Linked DNA regions of Homo sapiens. The protein of the gene in region 1 purifies or fractionates together with the protein of each later gene. This does not show direct contact. Each region holds a gene or a part of one and is shown on either strand. Other genes may lie near its edges. The genes, in order: ANAPC7, CDC27, ANAPC2 and ANAPC16.

What was found.
Region 2: the proteins of ANAPC7 (region 1) and CDC27 purify together in Homo sapiens (affinity purification with western blotting; 23 studies listed by BioGRID and IntAct, with this or other methods). This does not show direct contact.
Region 3: the proteins of ANAPC7 (region 1) and ANAPC2 fractionate together in Homo sapiens (co-fractionation; 6 studies listed by BioGRID and IntAct, with this or other methods). This does not show direct contact.
Region 4: the proteins of ANAPC7 (region 1) and ANAPC16 purify together in Homo sapiens (affinity purification with mass spectrometry; 6 studies listed by BioGRID and IntAct, with this or other methods). This does not show direct contact.

Annotation. Positions count from the first base shown.
Region 1 is NC_000012.12:110,379,701-110,386,721, forward strand, and holds part of ANAPC7 (anaphase-promoting complex subunit 7), read right to left. Parts: intron 6,770-7,021; coding exon 6,627-6,769; intron 3,261-6,626; coding exon 3,143-3,260; intron 2,249-3,142; coding exon 2,052-2,248; intron 1-2,051. UniProt on the Homo sapiens protein: Component of the anaphase promoting complex/cyclosome (APC/C), a cell cycle-regulated E3 ubiquitin ligase that controls progression through mitosis and the G1 phase of the cell cycle.
Region 2 is NC_000017.11:47,186,276-47,194,124, forward strand, and holds the start of CDC27 (cell division cycle protein 27 homolog), read right to left. Parts: upstream 3,021-7,849; 5' UTR 2,898-3,020; coding exon 2,871-2,897; intron 2,608-2,870; exon of another isoform or gene 2,471-2,607; intron 1-2,470. UniProt on the Homo sapiens protein: Component of the anaphase promoting complex/cyclosome (APC/C), a cell cycle-regulated E3 ubiquitin ligase that controls progression through mitosis and the G1 phase of the cell cycle.
Region 3 is NC_000009.12:137,185,558-137,192,714, reverse strand, and holds the start of ANAPC2 (anaphase-promoting complex subunit 2), read left to right. Parts: upstream 1-4,154; 5' UTR 4,155-4,182; coding exon 4,183-4,299; intron 4,300-4,611; coding exon 4,612-5,234; intron 5,235-6,358; coding exon 6,359-6,491; intron 6,492-7,157. Other genes in the region: TPRN (taperin), read left to right, coding at 24-264, 350-456, 541-603; microtubule nucleation factor SSNA1, read right to left, coding at 2,801-2,908, 3,450-3,649, 3,937-3,988. UniProt on the Homo sapiens protein: Together with the RING-H2 protein ANAPC11, constitutes the catalytic component of the anaphase promoting complex/cyclosome (APC/C), a cell cycle-regulated E3 ubiquitin ligase that controls progression through mitosis and the G1 phase of the cell cycle.
Region 4 is NC_000010.11:72,225,994-72,233,014, reverse strand, and holds part of ANAPC16 (anaphase-promoting complex subunit 16), read right to left. Parts: intron 2,650-7,021; coding exon 2,575-2,649; intron 15-2,574; coding exon 1-14. UniProt on the Homo sapiens protein: Component of the anaphase promoting complex/cyclosome (APC/C), a cell cycle-regulated E3 ubiquitin ligase that controls progression through mitosis and the G1 phase of the cell cycle.

The DNA.
Region 1 (7,021 bases):
ATTTCTCAAATTTGAACTCATCTTCCTGTTAAGAGCAAATCACTCCTAGACTCCTAGGTTTATTTTTAAATGCTTATAAAAATATGTTTTGGAGGAACTGCATCTTGTAAGATCTATTTTAATGTCTGTGACTGAGTCACCAAACGTTGCTGAAACTGGCACAGCTCCTTTGAACTCCCAGGGTCAATTCACATGAACTTAAAATATTACATAACAAAACAAAGTTGGACCCTGATTGTGCCCACTCTGGAGGTCACAATGAACAGACCCATTCCCACAGCCAACACTATCATATGGATGTGGAGTTATCCCACGAGTACTAACTCTGGCCCAAGGTAAGATGGCCACGAAAAAGAATAGGCCTAACAGGCCATGTACAGTGGTTCACGTCTGTAATCCCAGCACTTTAGGAGGCTGAATTGGGCAGATCACTTAAGCCCAGGAGTTCGGGACCAGCCTGGCTAACATGGCGAAACCCCATCTCTACTAAAAATACAAAAATGAGCTGGGTGTGGTGGTGTATGCCTGTAATCCCAGCTACTCAGGAGGCTGAAGCAGGAGAATCACTTAAACCCGGCAAGTGGAGGTTGCAGTGAGCTGAGATTGCACCACTGCACTCCAGCCTGGGTGACAGAGTGAGACTCTATCTCAAATAAAAATAAAAAAAATAGGCCGGTTGTGGTGGCTCATGCCTGTAATCCCAGAACTTTGGGAGGCCAAGGCAGGCAGCTCACGAGGTCAGGAGTTCGAGACCAGCCTGGCCAACATGGTGAAACTCCATCTCACTAAAAAATACAAAAATTAGCTGGGTGTGGTGGTGGGCGCCTATAATCCCAGCTACTTGGGAGGCTGAGGCAGGAGAATGGTTTGAACCCGGAAGGTGGAGGTTGCAATGAGCCAAGATCATGCCACTGCACTCCAGCCTGGGTGACAGGGCGAGACTCTGTCTCAAAAAAAAAAAAAAAAAACAGGACCCGGGCACGGTGGCTCACGCCTGTAATCCTAGCACTTTGGGAGGCCGAGGCGGGCGGATCACGAGGTCAGAAGATTGAGACCATCCTGGCTAGCACGGTGAAACACTGTCTCTACTAAAAATACAAAAAATTAGCCAGGTGTAATCCTAGCTACTGGGGAGGCTGAGGCAGGAGAATGGCATTAACCCGGGAGGTGGAGCCTGCAGTGAGCCGAGATCATGCCACTGCACTCCAGCCTGGGCAACAAAGCGAGACTCTGTCTCAAAAAAAAGAGGAGTAAGAGAAAAAAAATAGGCAAACTAAGTGATCTTGCATGGTGTCTGACACAGAGAGATTCATATTAATGAGTACGCCACACTGGATGGGGGCGAGCGGTGGGAGGACAAAAAAAAAAAACCCCATCCCAACTATACCCTCACCAAAAACCAGAAAAAAAATCAGAAAAAATGGATTATGAAAGTATGGGGTGACAAATCCAGTGAAAGCCCTAAATAAATGTAAAATGCCTAATGCAGTGGTTCCCAAACCTGTCTGCACATTGGTAACCCCTGGGGACCTCCAAAAATATCGATGTCTATTCCCAATTCCATGTATTTCCATCTACACTGGAGAGACCCAACGTCAGGATATTGAAAAGCTTCCCCGGATGATGTTTTTTTGTTGTTGTTGTTGTTGTTTTAATAGATGGAGTCTTGCTCTGTCGCCAGGCTGGAGTGCAGTGGCGCAATCTTGGCTCACTGCAACCTCCGCCTCCCAGGTTCAAGTGATTATCCTGCTTCAGCCTCCCAAGTAGCTGGGACTACAGGTGTGAGCCACCATGCCCAGCTAATTTTTGTATTTTTAGTAGAGACGGGGTTTCACCACGTTGGCCAGGATGGTCTCAATCTCTTGACCTCATGATCTGCCCGTCTCGGCCTCCCAAAGTGCTGAGATTACAGGTGTGAGCCACCACGTCCGGCCAGCTTCCCCAGATTATTCTAACAGAGTTTGGGAAGTGCTGGCCTAATGAAACCTTCCATCTGAGGGCTGCTGCCACACCCACGGATTCACACCATTCACCTATGTTTTCTTTCTTACCTTCATAACAATCTAAGCGACAAGGTGCGAGCCGTATGGCCTCCCGAAAGTGGATTATTGCTTCTTGGACTCTGCCCATGTTCCTAAGTGCTGCTCCCTTAAGTAGCAGAGCTTGAACACTATTACTGTTCAGCTGAATGGCCTTGGCTCCTAAATAGAGGGCCCGGGAGTAGCGTTTGCTATAGAAGCTGTGACAGCTGGAGAAAAAAAAAAAAAAAAAAACACAAAAACCCCAGAAGTTATCCAAGAGAAGACTACAAAGAAAGTTGATCCAAAAATCATATTGAAGGCCCTGAACATAATCCTTATTCCAAACCACACTTATAGTTTTAACCTAAGATATTAGTAGAAAAGCAAAACAAACCAAAAAATCCACTATTTATTTTTAAGGGGAAATCTTGATATGGAAGAGAAAAATTATGAAAAAGAACCTATGATCTGGATATTAGTTATTAGCAGAGAGGCATTCAGAGAATTTGTAAAGCCAGGTTAATAAACAAAGGAGCATCTTCTGGCCCCATCACTGATGGCTCAGTACTAAGCACAATGCATTCACCAACTCAGTTAATGCTTAACCCTAGAAGGAGAGGTTATTAGCCCATTTTCCAAATGAGAATACAGACCTAGATAGGTAAATAATGCATCCAGAGTCATAAACTATTATTTGAATCCAGGGCTGATTATCCTTTTAAAAAAAAAAAAAAAAAAAAATATATATATATATATATATATATATATATATATTTATAGAGACAGGGTCTTGCTACATTGCCCATGCTGGTCTCAAATTTCTGGCCTCAAGTAATTACCTCTTTTTATTTTTATTTATTTATTTTTGAGACAAAATCTCACTCTGCCGCCCACCTGGAGTGCAGTGGCACGATCTTGGCTCACTGCAACCTCTGCCTCCTGGGTTCAAGCAATCCACCTGTCTCAGTCTCCCAAAGTGTTGAGATTACAGGCATGAGCCACCATGCCTGTCCAGGTGATTACCTCTTAAACCTGTGCTTTCAATTTATATTCTCTTCAAGAGCAACCATTATCTCTTAATCTACTGACAACTGGGGAGAAAAGAGAATGCATAATCATACCCAGAAACCACCCACGGTTCTGCATGCTGATCAGAGATATTGAAAAGGCGGCATCCAAGGTTCTCAACATCCTCTAGCCGCCCTTCTCGTGCCAGTAGGTAGCCATATACATCCATTCCTAGAAGAGAAGGACATAGTGAGAAGAGGTGTTTTAAGAAGAGAAGCAGGGGTCCCACATACAGGAGTAGCACCCAACATCAGACCCCATGCTGAGGCCCCAGCTCCTGCAGGGGCTAAGCCCTTTCCACCATCACAGGCTCCTCCAACTACTATTTCCAGTTTCCTACAAAGTGACTATTAAAATGCAAAACCCAGGTTGGGCACAGTGGCTCACACCTGTAATTCCAGCACTTTAAGAAGCCGAGGCAGGTGGATCACGAGGTCAGGAGATCGAGACCATCCTGGCTAACACGGTGAAACCTCATCTCTACTGAAAATACAAAAAATTAGCCGGGCATAGTGGCACGCGCCTGTAATCCCAGCTACTTGGGAGGCTGAGGCAGGAGGATCACTTGAACCAGGGAGACAGAGGTTGCAGTGAGCCGAGATCACGCCACTGCACTGCCTGGGTGACAGACTGAGACTCTGTCTCAAAAAAAGAAAATGCAAAACCCAGCTGGGCGTGGTGGCTCACACCTGTAATCCTGGCACTCTGGGTGGCAGAGGCAGGAGGATCACCTGGGCCCAGGAGTTCAAGACCAGCCTGGGCAATATGGTGAGACCCTGTCTCTAAAGAAATTTTAAAATATCAGCCAAGTGGCCAGGTGCAGTGGTTCATGCCTGTAAACCCAGCACTTTGGGAGGCCAAGGAGGGCAGATCACGAGGTCAGGAGTTCGAGACTAGGCTAACAGGTGAAACCCCATCTCTACTAAAAATACAAAAATTAGCTGGGCATGGTGGCGTGTGCCTGTAATCCCAGCTACTCAGGAGGCTGAGGCAGGAGAATCGCTTGAATCAGGGAGGCGGAGGTTGCAGTGAGCCAAGATCGTGCCACTGCACTCTAGCCTTGGCTACAGAGCGAGACTCCGTCTCAAAAAAAAAAAAAAAAAAAAAAAGAAAAAAAAAAGAAAAAAGAAGGGCCAGGCGCGGTGGCTCATGCCTGTAATCCCAGCACTTTGGGAGGCTGAGGCAGGTGGATCACGAGGTCAGGAGTTCAAGACCAGCCTGGCCAAGATGGTGAAACCCCGTCTCTACTAAAAATACAAAAAATTAGCCAGGCACAGTGGCAGGCGCCTGTAATACCAGCTACTCGGGAGGCTGAGGCAGGAGAATTGCTTGAACTCAGAGGGCGGATGTTGCAGTGAGCCGAGATTGCACCACTGCACTCCAGCCTGGGCAACAGAGTAAGACTATGTCTAAAACATAAAATAAAATAAAGTAAAATAAAATAGAAAGAAAAAAAAATTAGCCAAGCACAGTGGCACATGCCTGTGGTCCCAGCTACTCAGGGGGCTAAGGCAGGAGGATTGCTTGAGCCCAGGAGGTCAAGGCTGCAGTGAGCTATGTTTGTGCCACTCCCGCCTGAGTGACAGAGTGAGACCCTGTCTCTAACAACAAAACCAAAACCAAAACCAAAGGAGGCCGGGCACGGTGACTCATGCCTATAATCCCAGCACTTTGGGAGGCCGAGGTGGAAATTCAAGACCAGCCTGGCCAAGATAGTGAAACCCCATCTCTACTAAAAATACAAAAACTAGCCAGGCGTGGTGGCACACACCTGTAATCCCAGCTACTCAAGAGGCTGAGGCAGAAAATTGCTTAAACCAGGAGGTGGAGGTTGCAGTGAGCCGAGATTGCACCACTGCACTCCAGCCTGTGAGACTCTGTCTCACAAAAAAAAAACAAAAAAAAACAAAAAAAACAAAAAACCAAAGGAGCAGAACAACCTACCTCACAATTTGAAAGCCTGCTATTTTCAGGAAGTGCTTGTCCTTCTATCCTGTGGTGTGATACACAGCTACCCTAACCCAACCAGAAAAGGCCCAAAAAAGGCATCAACTAAGGTCTCTCTTCCCAGAGTTCTAGACCATCAGAAATACACTGCTGAAAAGCCAATCAGTCTCAGAAAAAGTTGGCCTATTCCAGAAAAAAGCTTGTAGTTCTATCCAGAATGCAGTTCATTAAAGATCACTGCCTCGGGCTGGGTGCAGTGGCTCAGGCCTGTAATCCCAACACTTAGGGAGACTGAGGCGGGTGGATTACCTAAGGTCAGGAGTTGCAGACCAGCCTGGCTAACATGGTGAAACCCCCGTCTCTTCTAAAAAAATACAAAAATTAGTTGGGTGTGGTGGCGGGCGCCTATAATCCCAGCTACTCGGGAGGCTGAGGTGGGAGAGTCACTTTAACCAGGAGGCGGAGGTTGCAGTGAGCAGAGATTGTGCCACTGCACTCCTGCCTGGGCGACAAGAGTGAAACTCCGTCTCAAACAAACAAATAAAAAATCACTGCCTCTCCGCAGCCCCCGCTTTATTCTCACCCACATTCTATAAAAAGGGACCTATGCTCACTGTTACCCATCTCTTGCCACCATTCTCTTCCATCCCTTGCTATCCCTTCAGATTCCCATGAAAATTCCTCTCAAGCCAAGATTACTGCAATGCTCCTGCTAGCCCCTGGGCCTGGGTCTGAGATTCCAAGCTGCCATTGCCATTCCAAGCTGCCAGCTGTTGCCAGACTAGTATTTCTAAAACATCATTTTCATCATGGGTGCAGGCAGCTTGGAGAAGAGGAATAAGCACTTGAGGTGAGGGGAGATCTTGTGCAAACAAATCCATCCTTCTAGATCTGCTTCCTCATCTAAACGCTTGGGATGGCCCCTTCCCAGCTCCATCATTCCCCTGGCTTAAGAGCTCATAAGACTGTTTATTGTCACAAGGCCCTGTTTTTCTGATGGCCTTTTTTGGACCTTTACAAATAGACAGCATATCTATCTGACCTTATTTCCCACTATTCCTGAGAACTCACTGCCAGTGTCCTAACTGCCATCTGTTGGAGGTCCCTGTGAAGATTACCCTTCACCTGCAATCTTTTTCAAGATCAGTGATTTTTCTGTTGTTCACGCCTAATTACTGCCTTTAATCACCTTATCCCTTTCTTATTCCTTTTTAATTATACTAAGGACATGGCAAAACAAAATTCCCTAAAAGGATATTATGGTTTTAGGGATGCCATCCAAATTCTCAGTCAGGCACACCATAAATTTATAAGTCATAAGGAGGAGCTATGACCCCCTCAAAAGAAAAAAAGCCAAATAATGATCTGTGGGGAGAAGACACTTGAATTCAAGCAAAAACAGCTGCTCAAATGGTATTACCTAAGCGTTAGAGACATGTGTCATGACCTAAAAAAAGTAAAAGACTAGTATAAGTTTTATACACCATTTCTATGAAACTTGGTATCGAGTATTAATGCTGCATATTCTCCCTATTATCTCTGATCCCCCCCAACAACAGCCACTGTCTTCCTGCCCCAAGAATTACTTACCTTTTATCAGATAAGGATCCAACATCTGTGCCTGTTCAAACTTGAGGACAGAGTTTTTATTGTCTCCAGCTCTGAAGTACAGATCTGCCAAGCTTCCCAATAGGTCCACGTTATCTCGCAATAAGGATTTTTTCTCTAGTGAACTTTAAGATATTTATTAAACATTGAACCTTTAAATCTATTATAAATCCTCTTAGTTGCTGAATCTGGATGATTGGTCATACAGATACTATTTTCTTTTGCATAAATATAAAATTCTTCGTAATAAAAAACTTTAAGCTTATGACTTTAAAAAAAGTTATATAGGACAGGATAGCAAAAACAAAGAATAAAGCAGAAGTCTCTCAGTACCAACAAATAACTCTGTGGTTGCAGTTCTTCAGAACACAACATAC
Region 2 (7,849 bases), on another chromosome or scaffold:
TCTTTGAATCCATGTTAGATGCTGTCCCTGAACATTTTATCCCCAGCCAAGAGTACTCCTTCACCATCTAATGATCTCTAAAACAGTATCATGTATATAGTACCCAATTGCTATATTGCTTATTAAATTAATTTTCGAAAGGCTTATTTACAACTTCATCCAACACTTCTGTGAAGTCTTACCCCTAGGAATAATTGCTAAATCTATATAAAATCTCTTTGCTTCTTTTTTAAAAACCAATTTCACCAGGTGACTTTTATAAATATTCAAAAAGCTCTCACTGAAGTCACTTAGGCTAGTGTGTCTTTCCAAATAGTTACCATTAAAAATAAAAGAACTGACAGAAATTCTGCCTCATATGTGAGACTTTTGTAAGGACTCAAATATAAAGTAATACTCTTCTGAGAGGTAGTAATTTGAGACGGAGTTTTAATTTAGGCATATATGGTATATCGGACTGGCCATTCTACATTAAAACTTTAAAGAAAAAAAAATGCAGAAAACAGTTCTTCATATTTTCTGTGAACTTTTTCCTATGCCTAGTAATACCATCAACTCTGAGGCATTCCAAGAAAGAACAATTTTCCAACTTACTCTCATTGCTTTCCAAATACACGCAATCTGTCATCATAGTTTTTTTTTTAATAAAGACAGTATCTTATATATCTGTCCTATTTTTATTCTCTTCCTAATTCTTTCCCATTTGCAGCACTATCCCTGATCATTGATCTTTATCATTGTAGCCAAAGTTGCTTGTTCTTCTCACTGTTCCAAATCCATTCTTGAATGGCTTCTTATACTATACAACCAAAATTTTCACCTAGTCATATCCTAAAACTTTCTACCACTATCTCAAAAATCTAATGGACAATGCTGCTATGAAAAAGAAGCAAATTTGACATTTAAGCCTTAAAAATATCAAAGTGTATTACTGCTCAGAGTACTTTAAGGACAAACAGGAAACCTGATGGGTACTATCTAGAAACAGGCTACATATTCCTTTTCTTTTCCATGCTTTTATTTTTTATTTATTTATTTATTTTGAGATGGAGTCTCACTCTGTCGCCCAGGCTGGAGTGCAGCGGGACCATGTCGGCTCACTGCAAACTCCATCTCCTGGGTTCAGGCAATTCTCCTGCCTCAGCCTCCCAAGTAGCTGGGATTACAGGCGCCCACCACCACGCCTGGCTAATTTTTTATATTTTTAGTAGAGACAGGGTTTCACTGTGTTGGCCAGGCAGGTCTCGAACTCCTGACCTCAGGTGATCCACCCGCCTCAGCCTCCCAAAGTGCTGGGATTTCAGGTGTAAGCCACCACGCCCGGCCTTCCATGCTTTTATAAAGTCTGAAATTATTATTAAATGGTGGTTATAGTCTATCAATGCAACTAGTTTATCACTTTAGAAGACTTCTGGGGCCAGAGAAGGCAAAAAAAAAAAAATCATTAACTATTAAAACAAAATTATAAGAATATGCAACAGAAATTAAATAACTTGAGTAATCTGCTTATCTATTTAAGTTCATGTTAGGCCTTAAAAAATTATATATATATAATTACCTCATCTACAGCCAGAATAAAAAAAAATCTTAAAAGAAACTATACTGGTAAAAAGAATTTGGATGGAAATAGCTCTAGAAAAACTAATACAACTTACAGACAGGTAAATTTCATAAGATATAATCTTACGTTTTATTAATTCAAACACTAATAGCTGCTATATGTAAACAGCTGGAGAAAAAAACCAAACTAGAAGAAATGAGTATTTCATGCTGTTTAGAAAAATGAAATAAATATGAAAGTAGTGATATATTAAAATATTTACTGTTTGATACCTCAAGCCTTTTAAGGGCAATATGAAGGAATTTCTAAAAATCAGTTTGCTTTATAACTTCAAAATAAAGTCCATGACTCAATGACAGCAGTTGATAGAGGTCAATTCTGATCAAGTTAAAGATCATATAGTGGGATGAAGTCTCCCAGACCTGGTCCATTACCAAGGCACAAAAGATACAGTTTCTCCAGATGTCAGGGGGGAAAATGACTTGGCACCGCATCACACACTTAAAATCCAATAGGGTTCCTTTAATGCAACACAGCACTGTGCGTCAAAGCATACCCTGGTGTAAAGGCAGTGAAATGGACAGAAACACCATTATTTGTGTTTCATTTCCTGAATGCCTTATAAACATGCACAACAAAATGCTCCTGATCCCCATCAGAGAGGATGAAAACAACCCAAATGTGCCCTTTCCACCTCCTCCCCTGGTATTGGTGCTTGCGCCTCAGCACTGAGGCTTGGAGTTGTCTTCTCAAACCATCATTGTCCGGTGGGAAATTCACCGAGAAAGGAAACGTGGGATAGGAAGTCTGTTACCAAAATAGAAATTAGTATTAAAAAGACCGATCCTACGCTCCCTCCACCCTCTCATACAAGACAAAATAAAAAAAACCTCCGTAAACTTGCCCTACCGTCACGAAGATCACACAAGCTCCGATCAAATGTGCTTCTCGATCATCTTTTAGGCAAGAGAGCGCTTGGGGTGCATTTTCGGCCCCTCATCTCCCACCCCCAGTCAAGCCAGGCCCCTGGACTGACAGGAAAGGCTGGCCGGACGTTGGCTCGGACGGGAAAGGCGGTTATTTTCGCCGAAGCCGCTCACGCTAAGGGTGAAGTAATGTAGGGCCAGAGGTAACACGGCTTAGGCTGTGGGCAAGGCCTCCGAACTGACTAAAGATAGGCAGGACACGGCAGCAGGGGAGGCGGGAGAAGCAGCCGGGCCTAGGCCGCACCAGGCCGCGGAGTGGCCCTACGCTGCTGCTTCCCGACCGAGGCTGCCAGCCAAGCCCCAGAGAAGAAGGTTATCATTACCTGGACGGGTTCCTGCAGCACCGTCATCCTCGAGGCTCAGGCCCACTTTCTGCAGTGCCTCAGGCCCCCCCTGTAGCGGCTCCGGCCCGGCCAGCCCCTGCTCATTTAAACTCACCAGCGACCGTTACCGGGGGATGGGGGAGGCCGAGCGATTGCCGAGTGCTTCCGAGCGGGACACGGGAATACCCGAAGTGGAGAAAGCCGAGCGGGAACCAGACGGAAAAGCCCGAAGGGAGTCGGAAATACCCGAGGTTGGTCGACGAGAGAGAAAACCGTTGCCGGAAATTGTCGAAGATTACCGGAAGCTACCGAGTCTGACCCAAAGCGTAGGTTTCTCTTCTCAGCCACGCCTTCAGCCACGCACACCACGCCCAATCGGCCGTCCCAGGGTTGGGCTACGCCAAATCTGCAACCAGCAGGCTGGGCGTGGCGTGACAGCGCGGGCGGGTAGCGTTACGTGGCGGGGCTGCAGTGTGGATTAGCCCCTCAGCCCTTTTGGATTAATTGGTGTGCTGTAGATTATGAAGCAAAGGGTGAAACAGCAGAGTTTGGGGCTGTCTTTAATGAATCAACAAGTATTTGTCTATTGAGTTTAGATCATTCGTCCATTCCAGAAGTATCTACTCACGGCTCTGGGGGAAAGCTAAAGAAATTTGGAAAGATTGCCACTCCCCAAAGACATAGGATAGCTTCTGTCTTCAAGGAGATTAAGGTCTATTTAAGGGAAAAGCAGTGTAACAGAGAACGCTATATTATATGGTGCCTATTATAAGTAATATAAAAATTCAGAGAGGGCAATTGTGATAAGATAAGGAAAGTTCTATGGAAGGAAAAAAAAGTTTAAAATGGAGTTTGAAGGATGGGTAAAATTAGAGGAAAAAGAAGTATAGGAAAGTGAAGGGAGGAAAAATGGGATCAGTCTGCTAAGAAGGCATTAATTGGAAATAGTTACTTAGGTGAAGAGATCATGGAAAAGCTCAATAGGCCATTAGAAATTTTTATTTTTGATAGGTGAGGCATTCCGCTGTGGTGGGAAGAGTAGGGGGTCGGAAATTCAGAGGCCTGGTTTTGAATTTTATCTTTAGCACTAACTAGTCATAGGTCCTTGGCAAATTACCTCTCTGAACTTATGTTCGCTTAGTTTGAAAAAAAAGGATTAAGAGAATTCGATGTATTATAAATGTGGCCGTGTCTAGCATGCAATGTAGACTCTCTCATATTTCCTTTCTGCTCCCCTTCTCCCCCCAAAAAGAGTGAACCAGGGGACTGTTTAAATTTTGTTTTTCAGCAGATGAGGAAACAGTTTTTGAAAGTTACTTTTCTAGTCAGGAGCTCTCTAGGCTAGATGTGAGAATCATGATATATTCCATTGCTTGGAAATTTCCCTTTGGGTGATGTTAGAGGGAGATATTTTTTCTTTCATTTTTAAAAACAAGGCTGACAGAGCTACACTGCATCCTTCTCCACCGCCTTGTCTTGTCACTGTATATATACTTATAGCCCCTAAAGGGCAGGTGCTAAGATGATTTTTGGCTGCCCTGTGCCCAGTTGCTTTAGCGGGATTATGCTGGATGACTTGAGTGGTAACAGACTTTTACACTGGCCTGGAAAGTAGCCATTAGCTATTTAAAGTTTAAGTTAAAATGAAATTAAAAATGAAGTTCTTCAGATGCCCTAGCCACATTCCAAGGATTCAGTAGCCCTGTATGTGGCTAGTGACTGCCATATTGGACAGTCACACAGATATAGAAGAACATCACCAGCACTGGCTTGGCTAGGGCTGAAAGATTCAAGATGGCTTCACTCACATGTCTAGGGTGTCAGTGGTAGCTATTGGCTGGGTCCTTCATTTCTTCTCTGCATGACCTCTCTTTTCACACTGGCCTCTTATGAGTCAGTAGTTTAGCTCCAGCTTCTTGACTTGGTGGTTGACAACAAAGTGCGCAAAAATAGAAGCTGTGAGGTCCCTTAGGCCTAGGCCTGTGAGCATCACTTCTTGTTGGTCAGAGTAAGACTCAGAGCCACCCTGGATTCACCAGGAGGAATAGTCTACTTCTTAATGGGAAGAGTGGCAAAGTAACACCACAAAGGGCGTGTGCCATGGGAGGAGTTTTTGGGTCATCTTTGGAAACAATCTACCACGCTAGATATGAGATGAGAGTATCTAAGATTGGGAATGGAAAGAAAGGGATAAGTAAGAGCTATCACTCTTAAAATGTGACCCTTTCAACTGAACACAGTACTCCAGATTTATTCTGAATAATTCAGAATGCAGTTGGACTATTATTATCTGGACACGTCTATTAAAGTGGACTACAGTTGTATTTACATTTTTTTTTTCCGAGACTGAGTCTTGCTCTGTTGCCCAGAGCTGGAGTGTAATGGCGCAATCTCGGCTGACTGCGTCCTCCGCCTCCGGGGTTCAAGCAATTCTCCTGTCTCAACGTCCCGAGTAGCTGGGATTGCAGGTGCGCACCACCACGCCCGGTTAATTTTTGTATTTTTAGTAGAGACGGGGTTTCACCATGTTGGCCAGGCTGGTCTCAAACTCCTGATCTCATGATCCACCCATCTCGGCCTCCCAAAGTGCTGGGATTACAGGTGTGAGCCACTGTGCCCAGCCTGTATTTACATTTTTTAGCAGTCACATGACACTGTTTGCTCATGCTAAACTTGTGTGGTCATTTACGGACTCAGCTCTTTTTCACACAACATGCTGCCAACCCAAGTCTTGTATGTGTGCAGCAGAGTTTTGTAAACCTAAATATAGGACCTTACCACAGAGGATACATAAAGATGATACTTTGTGAAAATATGGATCTAGAGTCAGCATTTAAAGAGCCTCTGATGCTTGGCACTCTGGCTTATAGGCTTAGAATTTGCCTAAAGCCTTTTTTCTTTTTTTAACCTAAAAAAGAGCATTTCCTGGCTGGGTGAGGTGGCTCACGCCTGTAATCCCAACACTTTGGGAGGCCAATGCAGACGGATCACCTGAGGTCAGGCGTTCCAGACCAGCCTGACCAACATGGAGAAAACCTGTCTCTACTAAAAATACCAAATTAGCTGGGCGTGGTGGCACATGCCTGTAATCCCAGCTACTTGGGAGGCTGAGGCAGGAGAATCGCTTGAACCTGGGAGGTGGAGGTTGCGGTGAGCTGAGATTGCGCCATTGTTCTCCAGCCTGGGCAACAAGAGCAAAACTCCGTCTCAAAAAAAAAAAAAGGCCAGGCGCGTTGGCTCACGCCTGTAATCCCAGCACTTTAGGAGGCCAAGGCGGGCAGATCACAAGGTCAGGAGATCGAGACCATCCTGGCTAACACAGTGAAACCCCATCTCTACTAAAAATACAAAAAATTGGCCGGGCGTGGTGGTGGGCACCTGTGGTCCCCAGCTGCTGGGGAGGCTGAGGCAGGAGAATGGCGTGAATCTGGGAGGCGGAGCTTGCGGTGAGCTGAGATCGGGCCACTGCACTCCAGCCTGGGTGACAGTGCAAGACTGTGTCTCAAAAAAAAAAAAGCATCTCCTTTCTGATTGTTGTTGACCAGGCTAATACATCTGTTGTGGTTTCTACTCATCCACAGCAAAGCCACATTGTTTGAAGTACTTTGATGGGGTATTTTGGAGTGTTTTTACTTCCTTCTCTGCTCCTAATTGACCTACTTAAACTCGCTATTCATCAACCACTTGGGCATCCTGCTGTCATCCGTTATCCAATATGTTTGGCTAGTGAGTGGAGTTGGGTTACAACAGCATTATTCCAAAAATGGAATTGGAAAATTATTTTTTCTCCTAAGCCTGCTTCTTGGTCTATTTCATATTCAGTCAGATTTGGAGGCTGGCATTTAGGGAACTATTCAAAAAGCTAGACGTGATATCAGTAGCAAAATGTAGGTCCCACTGAAACATAGCCCAGAGTAAGTGTACTCTCCTGAAGTCTTTCAGTCCTCCTTGTCTGTACCCTTCATTTTGTCCCTGTTGCGTGCGGTTTTATGGCCTCCTTACCTGACCTTGCACCCCACCACCCCCACCCCACCCTCACCATGTTTACTCTTTGGTCAAATCATCCTCTTCTTTTGGCTTCTCTAATGACACCATCTCCTAGCTTTCCTCCTACTGCTCTGTTTTTGTTTGTTTGTTTGTTTGAGAGAGTCTCGCTCTGTCACCCAGGCTGGAGTGCAATGGCGCTATCTCGGCTCACTGCAGCCTCCGTCTCCTGGGTTCAAGCGATTCTCCTGCCTCAGCCCCCTGAGTAGCTGAATTTACAGGTGTGCGCCACCACACCCAGCTAATTTTTGTATTTTCAGTAGAGACGGAGTTTCGCCATGTTGGCTGGGCTGGTCTCGAACTCTTGACCTCAAGTGATCTGCCTGCCTCAGCCTTCCAAAATGCTGGGATTACAGGCATGAGCCACTGCGCCTGGCCTACTGCTCTGTTTTTTAATCGGTTTCCTTTGCAGCTCCTCTGCCAGCCCCTTTAATATTAAGCATGCTTCAAGGACCTGTTCTAGGCCTTCTTCTCACCCACCCTACACATTCTTCTTAGGCAAAACTATCCTTTCTTTCTTTCTTTCCTTCCTTCCTTCCTTCCTTTCTTTCTTTCTTCCTTTTTCTTTCTCTTTCCTTTCTTTTGAGACAGAGTCTCACTCTGTCACCCAGGCTGGAGTGCAGTGGTGTGATCTCAGCCCGCTGCAACCTCCACCTCCCAGGTTCAAGCGATTCTCCTGCCTCAGCCTCCCGAGTAGCTGGGACCACAGGCACACGCCACCATGCCAGGCTAATTTTTGCATTTTTAGTAGAGATGGGGTTTCGCCATGTTGGCCAGGCTGGTCTCCTGACCTTAGGTGATCCACCCACCTTGGCCTCCCAAAGTGCTGGGATTACAGGCGTAAGCCACCATACCCCGCCCCTATCCATTCTTGTGGCCCCAGTTTCTCATCTACAAATGGTTTGAAAAATTTGTATCTCCAGCCAGACTACTTT
Region 3 (7,157 bases), on another chromosome or scaffold:
GTTCACGTGACTCTCACTCCCAGATGAAGATCTCCTTCAACGACAAAAGCCTGCAGACCACATTTGAGTACCCTTCCGAGAGCTCCCTAGAGCAGGAGGAAGAGGTGGACCAGCAGGAGGAGGAGGAGGAGGAGGAGGAGGAAGAGGAAGAGGAGGAAGAGGGATCCGGCTCAGAGGAGAAGCCCTTTGCACTCTTCCTGCCCCGGGCCACGTTTGTGAGCAGCGTGAGACCCGAGAGCTCTCGGCTGCCAGAGGGTAGCTCAGGTGAGTGCCCACCTGGGGGACAGGCAGCCTGGGAGGGGTGGAGCCTGGTCTGTGTCCACGTCTGCATGTGCACCTCCATTCACAGGCCTGTCCAGCTACACCCCGAAGCACTCTGTGGCCTTCAGCAAGTGGCAGGAGCAGGCGCTGGAGCAGGCCCCGAGGGAGGCAGAGCCCCCGCCCGTGGAGGCCATGGTGAGATGCGGGGGAGTGGAGCGCTGGGGGGAGTCTGACACCCGGGCGAGCCCATGTGTCCACATTCTGTCCTCTCACTTTCAGCTCACACCCGCCAGTCAGAATGACCTCTCGGACTTCCGCAGCGAGCCAGCCCTGTATTTCTGAGCCCAGCACTGCCAGGACCAAGGCTGAGCCCAGCTGTGGGAGTCCCGGAAGCTGGGCAGTAGCCAGGGACTACTGCACCCGCTTCTGCCTTGTTTGGCCTCACTGTATCCCACCCACCCCTCCTGGCCCTGGAAGCAGCTAGGGTGCCTCCTGCCATCGGGGCCAGGTCTGGGTCTCACTCCCCGGCCCTGATTTGGGAGGGTCCAAGGGGGAAGTGGGGTGGGGAACTGCCTGTGGGTGAGTGCCAGGGGCCTGCTGGGTGGTGGCCATCTGCGACCCGGCAGGGGGCTGTGCAGATTCTGCACCTGGCCATTCCCTGTCCTGTCTCCTCAGCCTGCCTCACAGTGGCCATGGGGTGTCGGGGTGAAGGGCTGTCCCAGCTACTTGTCCTCTGCAGGACCCTAAGCCCCTGCCCGCAGCCCACATGCCCTCTGTGATGAGTGGCGTCTTTCCTGCCTCTGATGATGGACTCAATAAACAGCACTGGACAAGGCTGCTGGTGTCCCCACTGCGTGGTCCTTGGCTGAGAAGGGAGCAGGGGGAGGTCTCTGCAGGAAGAGGCCACATGGGGTCCAGTGGGCCCCAGTTTGCACGTCTATGCCAGGGTGTGTGGGAGGTGACCCCGATCTGGTACCCCCACTCCTTGATGTCCCAGTGGCCAAGGCTCTGACCTCCCAACTTCCATGGCCTGTTAACCTGTTGCCCCTCCACCCCAGCCTCCCAGAGCTGGCACTGTGGGAGGTAGGATGACAGGCCTGCTGTCAGGGGCCTAGACTTCAGGTGGGAGGGTGAGAGTGTTGCAGCTGTTGGGCCTGAAGTGGCTTCTCTGAGGGGCCCAGAGCCTGGGGAGGGACCAAGGGAAGGGCAGCATGAGGGCAGCACAGGGGACGGTGTCTTCTGCTGGGCTTGGCGTGCCCCCCGACCCACAGGATGAGGCAGGCCGGGAGCAGCGCCTGCCTCAGACGGCCAGAGCTGGGGCTGTTTACAGCCCATGGAACCCAAGCACCATTTCCTCCCTGGAGGATCAAACCTAAGAGCAAAGAGATAAAGAGATGCTGTCTGGCCAAACTCCGGCGGAAGGAGAGTTTGGTGTATTTCCCTGGTCGGGTTAGGCCCAGCTCTTTTCTGGACCCTCTGGATCAACACATGCCTCCCAAATCGGCCCAGTCCTCGGGCCATGCTTGGTTGCTGCAGGGACAAAACAGAGGCCCCAGGGCACATGGAAGGATGGAAGTGGCCAGTGCTTGGTGTGCGGCCAGGGAAAGGTGGGCAGCAGGGCCTGGTGGCAGCAGTGGTGTCATCAGGCCAAGCAAAACTTGCAACTGAGGAACCGACGGGGGTGGGGGGTGTGAACTCCCCCCAGTCCTTGCTGAGAGGGACCTGAATCTGAGGCAGCTGCTGGATATGCTTGGCATCCCCAGCTGTCTCTCTGGGCTGGGTCCTATGCTGGCCACCAGGGTGTGGCAGAGAACAGGACGAGCAAGCAGAGCTCCTGAGAGGAGGGTGAGCCGTGGGCCAGTCAGGGGAAGAGGACCGGCGGCCCTGCTGGGGAGGGCTCAGGGTGGGGCTGGCCTGGGGAGGGTGGGCACCCTCAGCGGTGTCCCTGAGGCTAGTGGGGCAGTCACAGGGAGGCCACTCCAGACCCTCCTCCCTCCTCTCCCAAGGGGGAGCCTCAGGCTCTGGCTCTGCAGGTGTCTGGCAGCCCCATGCTGTTGATACGGGCAAGCAGCAGGCTGGCACGGATCTTTACAAAGATAATCTTTATTCATAATCACAGGCCACAGGGGTGAGACCTGAGGTTTGGGTTCTGTGGTGAAGGAGAACCCCTGTCCTCCTGTCCCTTGCCCTGGGCCTCTGCTGGCTGAGGAGGGACAAGGTGAGGGGGCCCCCATGGTGCTCAGACAACCAGAGCCTCCCTGGCAGGGCAGGAGTGTGGGTGCCACAGAGACAAGCCCCTTGCAGAGCTGACCTGGAGCCCACCATCCCCATAGCCTGTGTGAGCATGAAGCGAGGACCCCCGGGTGGGCTGTGCCCTGGGCTTGTCACTGATGCCAGTGGAGGCTGGCACCTGCCCCTCTCGGCACCTGAGACAGTGAGGGAAGGTAGCTGCTGCCGTGAAGAACAAAGATGCTCTGAGCACACACTTGCTGGGGCTGAGCTGAGGGGCACACGGAGGCAGGCCCTGCCCGTGGTCTGGTCAGCTGTCCCTGCCGCCGCTACTTTTCTGGTCTGGGGCTGTAGCCTTGGTCAGGTTCCCAGCTTCCCTCTTGAGAACGCTGAGCAAAGTCTGGGAGCTCTCCAGGATCTGGGGCCAGAGAAGTGAGAAGGTTGTTAATGTTCACCTGTTGGTAAGGTCCTAAGCCCCAGCTGTCCTCACACTCAGGTGCTGGGACCTGGCTGGGGGTGCTGTAGCCAAGGGATCCTGTGTGGGGGAAGGCGGAAGCCCAAGGGGACTGGCAGACGGGGTGGCAGGGCCCTCTTCCCTCCGGAATCTGACCCAAAACACTTCCTCTCCACCCTCAAAGCCAGGCTGGGTTAGCACTGGCCCGTGCTGGGTGCTCTGCCCAAGACCTGGCTCTTCACACTGAGCAGAAATAACCACATGGCTAGCGAGAACCGGATAAAGACCAGGACCCAGGATGCCCCAGGCCCCACAGACAGCCCCACAGTCACTCCCACAGCAGCCTGGGTTCCTCAATGGGCCTGGCCACGCTGCCCCTGCCCGAAATGCCAGCGAGGCACAGACTGCCCACAGCCGGGAGCCCCAGCCGGTCCTGACGCCTTGCCGTGGCAACACCCCTGCCGTGCCTATCCCCTGATGCTCGGCCTGGCCTCCCGAGCTCCACCTTGAGGTAGGCGGCCTCCGTCTCCGCGATGGTCCGGTCGAACTCGTTGCGAGAGGCAATCTTGCGTGCCAGGTTCTCGTTGACGCGGGCCAGCTTCTCTGTCAGCTGCCTCACCTCATTCTGCAGCCGCTGCTTCTCGTCCTCCTCCTCCTGGATCTGCCGGCACAGCTCCTCCCGCTTCTGGCACAGCTCCTCTATGCCTGGGGGCCGGGAGGGGCGGCGCTGTGGGCCCAGGGCAGGAGCGCGGCGGCGGAGGGCGGGCCTCCTTCCACCCGAGGAAGCCAGAGTCAGGCACCACCCCCGAGCGCCCGGCGCGGGGCCTGCGAGCCAGCGAGGGCTCGGGCCACGGACACCCGGCCTCCGGCACGGAGGGCTCTGCTCAGCCGCGCGATGCCCGCAGCGAGGCGGGTCCAGGGGCACCCCGCTGCGAGCCGGGAACCCGGCCCTGCGGCCCTCCCGACCTCCCCGTCCCGGCTGCGCCGCTCACACTTGACCAGCTCGTTGTTGTAGTTCTGCAGCGCCGCGCCCTGCTGGGTCATGGTCAACGCCGCCCGGGGCCCCACCACCCCAACCGCCGCGGAAGCAGCGCTGTCCGCGCCTGCGCACGACTCCCCCACGGCGCGCCGAACTAGCGCGTCATCGCTGAGCGCCTTGTGCGCGTCATGGCTGCGCGTGCAGACGTGCGTCATCGCCGCGCGCCGCGCCGAGCGAATCTCGGAGTCGGTGGGTGCAGATGGCGGCGGCAGTTGTGGTGGCGGAGGGGGACAGCGACTCCCGGCCCGGACAGGAGTTGTTAGTGGCCTGGAACACCGTGAGCACCGGCCTGGTGCCGCCGGCTGCGCTGGGGCTGGTGAGGCCTGGGAAGAGAGGGGCGGCCCCGCGCGGAGTTTCCGGGACCGTACGCGCTTTGGGGCCGCTACCCTCGGGTTCATACGGCTCTGTCCATCATCCGCCTCTGTCCTGTCCTGCCATTTTCCACCACCTTTCCGTTTCGTTTCGTTCAGCTCCGCTGACAGCCCTTCCATAGCTTCGGCCCAACGTCCGGGCAGCACGGACAGGGGGCAGCGGAGTTTTTGCAGCCTCCCCCTCAGCTTCTTCCCTTCCCCGCCTCTCCCCACCTCTATGTTGTGTTCCCCTCGCCTCACGGTTTTCTGCACCCCAGGTGTCTTCCCGGACCAGCGGTGCAGTCCCGCCAAAGGAAGAGGAGCTCCGGGCGGCGGTGGAGGTTCTGAGGGGCCACGGGCTACACTCGGTCCTGGAGGAGTGGTTCGTGGAGGTGCTGCAGAACGATCTGCAGGCCAACATCTCCCCTGAGTTCTGGAATGCCATCTCCCAATGCGAGAACTCTGCGGATGAGCCCCAGTGCCTTTTGCTACTCCTTGACGCTTTTGGCCTGCTGGAGAGCCGCCTGGATCCCTACCTGCGTAGCCTAGAGCTGCTGGAGAAATGGACTCGCCTGGGCTTGCTGATGGGCACTGGTGCTCAGGGGCTGCGAGAAGAAGTCCACACTATGTTGCGCGGAGTCTTGTTCTTTAGCACCCCCAGAACCTTCCAAGAGATGATCCAGCGTCTGTATGGGTGCTTCTTGAGAGTCTATATGCAGAGTAAGAGGAAGGGGGAAGGGGGCACAGACCCGGAACTGGAAGGGGAGCTGGACAGCCGGTATGCCCGTCGCCGGTACTACCGGCTCCTGCAGAGCCCGCTGTGTGCAGGGTGCAGCAGTGACAAGCAACAGTGCTGGTGTCGCCAGGCTCTGGAGCAGTTCCATCAGCTCAGCCAGGTCTTGTGAGTAGTCTGTCCCGATGGCCATGCCCTTGCTCCTTCTGGTTCCCCGCTGCTCCCCTGGGTCCAGCTGGCCTCAGCAGAAAGCTGGTGAGCCGTCCTGATAACCAGGAACATGACAGAGAGAGAGTCCCAGGGATTCCTGTGCAGCGTGTCCTGGACACAGGTGTCTCTCTTCTGTCACTCACCTTCAGTCCCACAGATTCATGCCTTGACCCTGGTAAGGCCCTATGTGGCTTGTGTCTGCAGCAGCAAATTTCTTAGCAACTCCAAACTTCCTGGACTCTGCAGAATTCCACTGTGCCTTTTGTCGATCCTGGGGAGGAATGATTCTCACCCTCGTCGACATTCCTTGCCCTGTAATTGTGAACAGAAGCTTGCTGCTGCTTCTCTCCAGGAAGATCAGGTCACTGTGAGGGCAAGCAGTCTCTTGTTAGTTTGGAGAGGAGAGGGGTTTGTTGTGAGAGACAGGTCCTGTTGTAGTTCTCTAGCAATTGTCATACCCTTGGCCATTTGTGGTGGTTTTGTCACATTGAACGGGGGTGTAGCCATGCAGCTACTTGAGAGGTCTTAGGTGGACTAAAGGTGGACTAAAGGAGTGCTCCTTTTGCTGGCAGGGGTCAGGGAGACCGTGAAGGGCTTCTGTTGGGCTCATCCCTGCAAAAGTTACACGGCAACTTTTCTCATCCTCCTCTTGAGTCCTTTTGTCACTGTAGACCAGAGACTGCACTGAAAGGCACAAACAGTGGCATCTGTACCTCTGCGGCCAGGGTAGCAGTGCAGTTGGTTGTCGTTTCAGAGTTGATCCTAGGAGATAAGGCTAGGGCCCCCGACAGCCACACCTGCTGCCACTGATCACATGGGGAAGGCCAGTGTCCCTACCTGGATAGAGGCCAGCTGGGCGGGGACAGCAGAGCCTGGGAGTGCTCTGTGCTCCCAGTGGCTTCTTGAAGCCTTTGGTACAACCGCCCCCCACAGCTGAGGATTGTGGGGAGGTGTGTGCTGGGTGTGTGTGTGTGTGTGTGCTGCATGCACTCTACAGGCAGGGCAGTCCTGGCATGGGGCTGTTCTGGGCTAGAGGGGCCGGTGTGTGCTCTGGGTGCCCCATGGCCAGGGCTCTCCTCTAGACACAGGCTCAGTCTGCTGGAGCGGGTCAGTGCCGAGGCTGTGACCACCACCCTGCACCAGGTGACCCGGGAGAGGATGGAGGACCGTTGCCGGGGCGAGTACGAGCGCTCCTTCCTGCGTGAGTTCCACAAGGTGAGGACCCCTCCCTTGGGCTGTGCCCCGCTGGAGACAGGGGAGTAGGTTTCTGGCAAACCTGACACCTGGCTTCAGAAGCATCCAGAGCACGGAGGCCTGGGTGGGCCCAGACCGGGTGGTGGCTGGAGCTGTCTTGATGTGGGGTAGAGACCAGTACTTCTGGGCCCTGGTGATAGCGAGGACGCATCTGAGGTGCGCTCTTCGGATCTGCGCAGAATCCCATGGCTGCAGGCGGTATCGGGCCAGGATCCCGAGGGGGCTACCTCAGGCAGGTGTGGCGAAGCTGGGCCCACCAGAGGAGCCACTGAATGGATCCCCTTCTCCTGTTTGCTGCCCTACTTGAGTGTGGACTCGCTTGGCCGGTCCCTAATGGACTGACCTACAGCCAGCCTGCACCACAGCGGGGAGCGAGACACCCTCACATGGGGCCTCCAGGCACCTGTGCTGTTGGGGTGTGGTCTGGGGCTCTGCTCTGGGCTCCCGGAGCCATAGGGGAGCTGGGCCCAGCCATGTGGGTCCCCCCATCCTGTTCCCATGTGTCACCTGTCCTTTCCTCAGTGTTTCAGAGTCCCCCTACTGAGGTGCAGATTGGCTGTGATGTTGGGTTTTCAAAGAGGGAGGGTGTCCCCAAAGCGGTGGGCAAGAGTGGGTAGTAGGGTGGAG
Region 4 (7,021 bases), on another chromosome or scaffold:
AGCAACTTGCTGATCTGTAAGGAGTCAAGGAAAGAATATTATGCAACAACGTATTACCCAAGAGACTGCCACCAGCCACCAAGATGATGACTGGTATAAAAATAATTTCTAGGCCGGGTGTGGTGGATCACGCCTATAATCCCAGCACTTTGGGAGGCCGAGGCGGGCGGATCACGAGGTCAAGAGATCGAGACCATCCTGGCCAATATGGTGAAACCCCATCTCTATAAAAATACAAAAAAAATTAGCTGGACGTGGTGGCATGCGCCTGTAGTCCCAGCTACTCGGGAGGCTGAGGCAGGAGAATCGCTTGAACCCTGGAGGCAGAGGTTGCAGTGAGCCGAGATCGTGCCACTGCATTCCAGCCTGGTGACAGAGTGAGAATCCGTCTCAAAAAAAAAAAATTTCTAGATGGATTTTTTTTTCTCCTCAAGATTCTCTCTCTTTTTTTGGGGGGTGGGGTGGGGGTGGGGAATGGAGTCTTGCTTTGTTGCCCAGGCTGCAGTGCAATGGCGCGATCTCGGCTCACTGAAACCTCTGCCTCGTGGGTTCAAGTGATTCTCCCGCCTCAGCCTCCTGAGTAGCTGGGACTACAGGCACCCGCCATCGTGCCCAGCTAAGTTTTTTATTTTTGTAGAGATGGGGTTTCACCATGTTGGCCAGGCTAGTCTCGAACTCCTGACCTCAGGTGATCTGCCTGCCTCAGCCTCCCAAAGTGCTGGGATTACAGACGTGAGCCACTGTGCCCGACCCTCAAAATTCTCATAATGGGGTCTTATTCTATGCTGGTCAGAAGCTTAATTTTTTTTTTTTTTTTTTTTTTTTTTTGAGACAGAGTTTCACCCTTATTGCCCAGGCTGGAGTGCAATGGTGTGATCTCAGCTCACTGCAACCTCTGTCTCCTGGGTCCAAGCGATTCTGCTGCCTCAGCCTCCCGAGTAGCTGGAATTACAGGCATATGCCACCATGCCTGGCTAATTTTGTATTTTTAGTAGAGATGGGGTTTCTCCATGTTGGTCAGGCCAGTCTCGAACTCCCGACCTCAGGTGATCCGCCCGTGTCAGCCTCCCAAATTGTTGGGATTATAGGCATGAGCCACCGTGCCCGGCCTATTTTTTTTTTTTTAAGTTGGAAGTTTCTTCTAATGTTAAAAGAAGAAAGGCTGGGCGCAGTGGCTCATGCCTGTAATCCAAGCACTTTGGGATGCCAAGGCAGGCGGATCACAAGGTCAAGAGATCAAGACCATCCTGGCCAACATGGTGAAACCCCATCTCTACTAAAAATACAAAAATTAGCTGGGCGTGGTGGCGTGCACCTGTAGTCCCAGCTATTTGTGAGGCTGAGGAAGGAGAATCACTTGAACCCAGGAGGCAAAGGTTGCAGTGAGCCGCGATCATGCCATTGCACTCCAGCCCGGGTGACAGTGAGAGACTCCGTCTCAAAAAATAAAAGTCATTTTAAAATAAAATGATCACATTTTCAGGATGTGCCCTATTTTTTTCCAGAGACAGGGTCTCACTCTGTCACCAAGGCTGGAGTATGCCTCCTGGGCTGAAGCGATCGTCCCAACTCAGCCTCCCACGTAGCTGGGACCACAGGCATGCACCACCATTCTCCACTAATTTTTGTATTTTCTTTTTTTAGATATGGGGTTTCACCATGTTGCCCAGGTCAGTCTTGAACTCCTGGGCTCAAGCAGTCTTCCTGCTTCAGCCTCCCAACGTGCTGGGATTAGAGGCATGAGCTACTGCACCCGGCCTGGATGTGCTCTGTTCCTAAAAAAAGTACTCATCCTCTATGCCATAGTGATTTGTGGACTAAAATCCTAGGGTTAGAGGCAATTACAGCTTTTCCCCCTACATAAAGTTTCAATGGAGAAATGGTCTGGAGGGGGAACACAGTTTGTTGATGCAGAAATGAAGGCCTGGTGAGGCCTAATGTAACAGAAAAAGTGTTATCAGGATGTTAGAGTATAGACAGACCAGGAGGTATCGTACAAATACTTGAAGATGATGATGGTAACCAGTGGAGGACAACAGTAAAAGGAGGTTTCAGACAGGAGAGGAAAAAGTAACACAAGAGGAGCAGGAAGCACTGACTCCCTGGAGGACCAACTTTTTTTGTTTTTCAGACAGGGTCTCTGTTGCACAGGCTAGAGTGCAGTGCTGTGATTCCGGCTCATTGCAGCCTCAACCTCCCGGGCTCAAGTGATCTTCCCACCTCAGCCTCCCAAGTAGCTGGGACTACAGGTATGCGCCACCATGCCTGACTAATTTTTTCTTTGTAGAGATGCAGTTTCACCATGTTGGCCAGGCTGGTCTCAAACTCCTGACCTCAAGTGATCCACCCGCCTCAGCCTCCCAAAGTGCTGGGATTACAAACGTGAGCCACTGCACTCGGCCCCAACCTTAAGCCTCAATGTGGACATTATGACTAGATTAAGACCTAGAATGTTCTTTAATTTAGGAAGTCCACTAAAATAGCCTTGCTGAGTTTGGGGATTTTTGTCACAGCCTCATCCACCCCCTAGCAAATTTATTCTCACAGTCAAGTACGCAACACTCATGTGCTTACCATGTTTCACCTGTTTAAGCGTGGATGCCACTTGATAGCTAAAAACAGATTCGCAGAGGAATCTCTCAGAGCCATCTACAAACAAAAGGAGAAAAGGTTTTAATCTGCTCTAAAGGTTTTATGGCTTCTGATAAACCAAGTAAACTTGTCTATTCTTTTCCCTGCTTGTACATTCAGGGTCTAGTTCTCAGTGTTTACAAAGACGGGTTCTGCTTCATTTAGAACTAAGACTGTTATAAAAGCTATTTATTCTATACCTAGAATATTAAAATAGTCCCTCTACTTAAGAGTTTAAAAATAGTGTTTAAAAAAACAAAAACAAGAAACCTCCGTCTGATGTCCTGGTCAACACTTCCCTCCTCCCAACCTGAGAGTTCCTTAATGTTCTCCTGTATGTCAAGCAAACACTGGCAGCTGACACATTTGGCCTTGTGGCTGGCTCCTGTAGTGTCAAAATATAAAGGTTCACCAAAACTCCAAATCATTTTCAGTCTAAAAAACAAAGCTGAGGAAAAAATTGTTGATTTTTAATATATCAAATTACATCACTCTGACAATCACAGAACACTGCTGGGAAATTTCATTCTGTGAACGCAAACTGTAACCTTGATTTTCCAACTGAACCAAAACACTGCAATTTGGATGACGATAAGAGTATGGTGCAAGTTCAGAACCTAGAATTGTACTGGTGCCAAGAACTGCCAACAAGAAGTGGCCAACTCAGTTGCCACAGCACTTGGAAGATGATCATGAAACATAAGCTAGTTCATGTTATTCCTTGTCAGGCAAGGGCTGATACAGCAAAACATATTCTCAAAAATTTACAGCTCACGTAGAAACATTTGATTTTTAAAAAGGTAGCAGAAACCATTTGGGGGATGTACCTTATTGCGAAAATCCTAAAACAAACGGGGAGAGAGGACACAGCTGTCCTTTTTCAGGCAGTACTTCACGTTAGCACTACTAGGCCTCAAGCATTCACCCATCAATCATGGGTTGTTGTGTTGGCCAGGTATTACATGGCAAGCAGACAGGACTAACACATTCTGGCCTCATGCTGAGTTTCACACAAAGGAAACCTTATTTCAGAAGTCACAATAACCAATTAAAAAAAAAAACAACTATAGATACTGTATCCAAAGAGCTTGAATATATAACCAAGAGGGCATCCTTCCAATATCATCTTCAAAGTGATCAAAAAAAAAAAAAAAAGAGAAAAAGAAAAAAATGAAAGTATAATTATTGGGATGTATACTTTTTGTATTCTTCAGAGACAGTGTTACATTCTGTAAATTCAAACTCAGTCTCAAAAAAAAAAGGGGTTTGAATGTCAGCAGTCATTATCCTATTCATATTCTTGCTTAAAAAGTCCAATTATAACTCATATTTTATTTTAGAAAGAGGAAAGCATAGACAATTAGAGTTTACCTCCCAGATGGTTTGATCCTGAACTTTAGGATTACACACAAGGCAGTGGGAATTATAGGCTATAAGGATCAGGCCAAGATGTATATGGAAGCTCCTGAAAGTGCCACCTCTCACTTGCATTTAATCACAGGCACCATTAGGATAAAATAGTTAAGTTGTGATATTTGCATATTTTCCTTGGTAATGAACTTCAAAGCAAAAGGATATAAGCTAAACTTTCAAAAAGGAACCTCTGCATTTCACTCCACCACACTATATGCCTGTGGAACACACTTTTGCTGATTTGCAGCTCCCTATTAACGTCCAAGTCCAATTGCTTCTTAGCCACATCCTATTAGATGTGGTATCAGTACCAGTCTAAAGCCTGGAATTGCTCCAGAACGGAGTCAGCTGGGGGCAATCTCTTCCATTTAGAAACTGTAATCAAACCCTTTGTAACACAGCAGGTAGCAATACATCAGCTTTCCTTGTCAGGGACAAGCACAGGTCATAAACAGGGAAAAGTTTAGTAAATTACCCAAATCTAACACCATAGCCAACTCCAATAAATAAGGATGGTAACAAATACATTAAAAAGAATATTACCTCACAGTAGGCAATTAGACAATGCCAGATAATTTATACTTCAGTGGCTACAATGTCTCTAAAATACAGCCACTGATGGGCTGGAAGGCAGTTTCTAATGTGCTCAGTAATAACTGGGTGAGGACAATTTTGGCCAAGGGCAGGAGAATGCTGCAAACTGCTGTATGCTGCTTATGTGAGGTGTCTGTTATCAGAGAGCAGAGGCACAAAAAAGTTAATTCACAAGGTTAACTACAGGTGATTTGGGTTTACTATCCTAGACTCACAAGGATGTAACATCAAGTTGAACCTTTTGAGATTAAAAACAGCATCCATCCTTGATTCCTAACTGCTTTTGTTCCTTACTCTTGACAGGCAACCCTTCCTGCTCTATTTTCATATCCTTTTTTTTTTTTTTTAAACCAAGTCTCGCTCTGTCGCCCAGGCTGGGGGGCAGTGGCATGATCTCGGCTCACTGCAACCTCCGCCTCCTGGGTTCAAGCAATTCTCTCAGCCTCCTGAGTAGCTGGGACTATAGGCACACACCACGATGCCTTTTTTTTTTTTTTTTTGTATTTTTAGTAGAGGTGGGGTTTCACCATATTGGTCAGGCTGGTCTCGAACTCCTGACCTCAGGTGATCCGCCCACCTCGGCCTCCCAAAGTGCTGGGATTACAGGCGTGAGGCACCGTGCCCGGCCTCTATTTTCATATTCTATTAAACTATTATTGGTCAGGTACATGTGTGTTAGATTTATTGTATAATAGAATAGTATCACCTATAAACATGGTAGAAAATGCTTCCAAATCCAACATCCTTACATTTCAGAGTACTCTTCTCAATTTAATATTCTTGATTTGACCAAGAATATTAAATGGGTTTAGGGGTTGCCATCTCTACATTATTTTTCAGTCTTTAAGTGTAATACTCTTTATATTCTTAAGATTTTAGATTTTTAAAGATTATCTTAATCTTTTTAAGATTTAAGATTATTGGTAAAACTTGAAATGTAAGAAACACAATCAAAACTGTGCACTGTGTATTTATACTTAATATAAATGTATCCTACAACAGAAACACAACACATTTCTCCATGAAGCATATTGAGATGGAATAAAAATGGATAGATCTATAACTCGTTAGAACATCAACATTCAGACTAATCTCAGAAGCCTTTCTTCTTCAATATCTCCACATAATTTGATGTATACTGACAAAGAATGCTGATAGCTTTGAGACTGTGGAGGTACCTCCTGTATTAAATTCCTCTTATAGCTAGAATTTAAATGACTTTAATCTTAGAGCTCCATTGTTGAATATGGATTCTTCTGCTGCTATAAAACTCATTAAGCAATTTAAGTGTCTCCCATTTTTGATTTGTTTTGTGGGAAACTTCCTTAATACTAGGTCTTTGCTGCATATAAATGAAGTCATAATATAGTTTTAGCACCAAATATGGTAACAGGGCCCCAATTGTTCACTACTTCTAACCAGACTCAGTGATACTAACTTGAGTATTTAGTTAACACAATTAAAGAAAATAAAAAGGCAAAGAGAGAAGTACATGTATCACTAATTACATATGCTACCTGGTCATCTACCTCACCACTAGTCATAACCCAAACCAATCCTAGGGAGCTCTATGGTCCCAGAGTCCCCCCGTGGTTTCCTGTCACAAATGATTTTGGGCTTAACCCGTAACTCTTTTTATTATTTCTGATTATTCATCACCCCCAAGGCCAACTATAGTTTGTATCTTTTCTTTTCTTTTTTTTTTTTTGAGACAAGGTCTCCATCACCCAGGCTCGAATGCAGTGATGCGATCACAGCTCACTGCAGCCTCCACCTCCCAGGCTCAGGTGAACCTCCCACCTCACCTTCCTAAGTAGCTGGGACTACAGCCACGTGCCACCACACCCAGCTAATTTTCTATTTTTTCTAGAGACAGGATTTCGTCATGTTGCCCAGGCTGGTCTCAAACTCCTGGGTTCAAGCAATCTGCCTGCCTCAGCCTCCCAAAGTGCTGGGATTACAGGTGTGAGTCACTATGCCTGGCCTATAGTTTGTATCTTTCTCACAGATATTCCTAGATTAGTTTTAAAATATAGTTGTGTAAATTTGAAATATTAAGGCCAGGTGCGGTGGTTCATGCCTGTAATCATAGCACTTTGGGAGGCTGAGGTGGGCAGATCATTTGAGGTCAGGAGTTCAAGCTCAGCCTGGGCAACATGGCGAAACCCTGCCTCTATTAAAAATATTAAAAAAATTAGCCAGGTGTGGTGGTGGGCACCTGTAATCCCAGCTGCTTGGGAGGCTGGGGCAGGAGAATCACTTGAACCCGGGAGGCAGAGGTTGTAGTGAGCCAAGATCGAGCCACTGCACTACAGCCTGGGCAACAGAGCGAGACTCTGTCTCAAAAAAAAAAAAAAATTGCAACACTTAAAGGAAAAAAGAT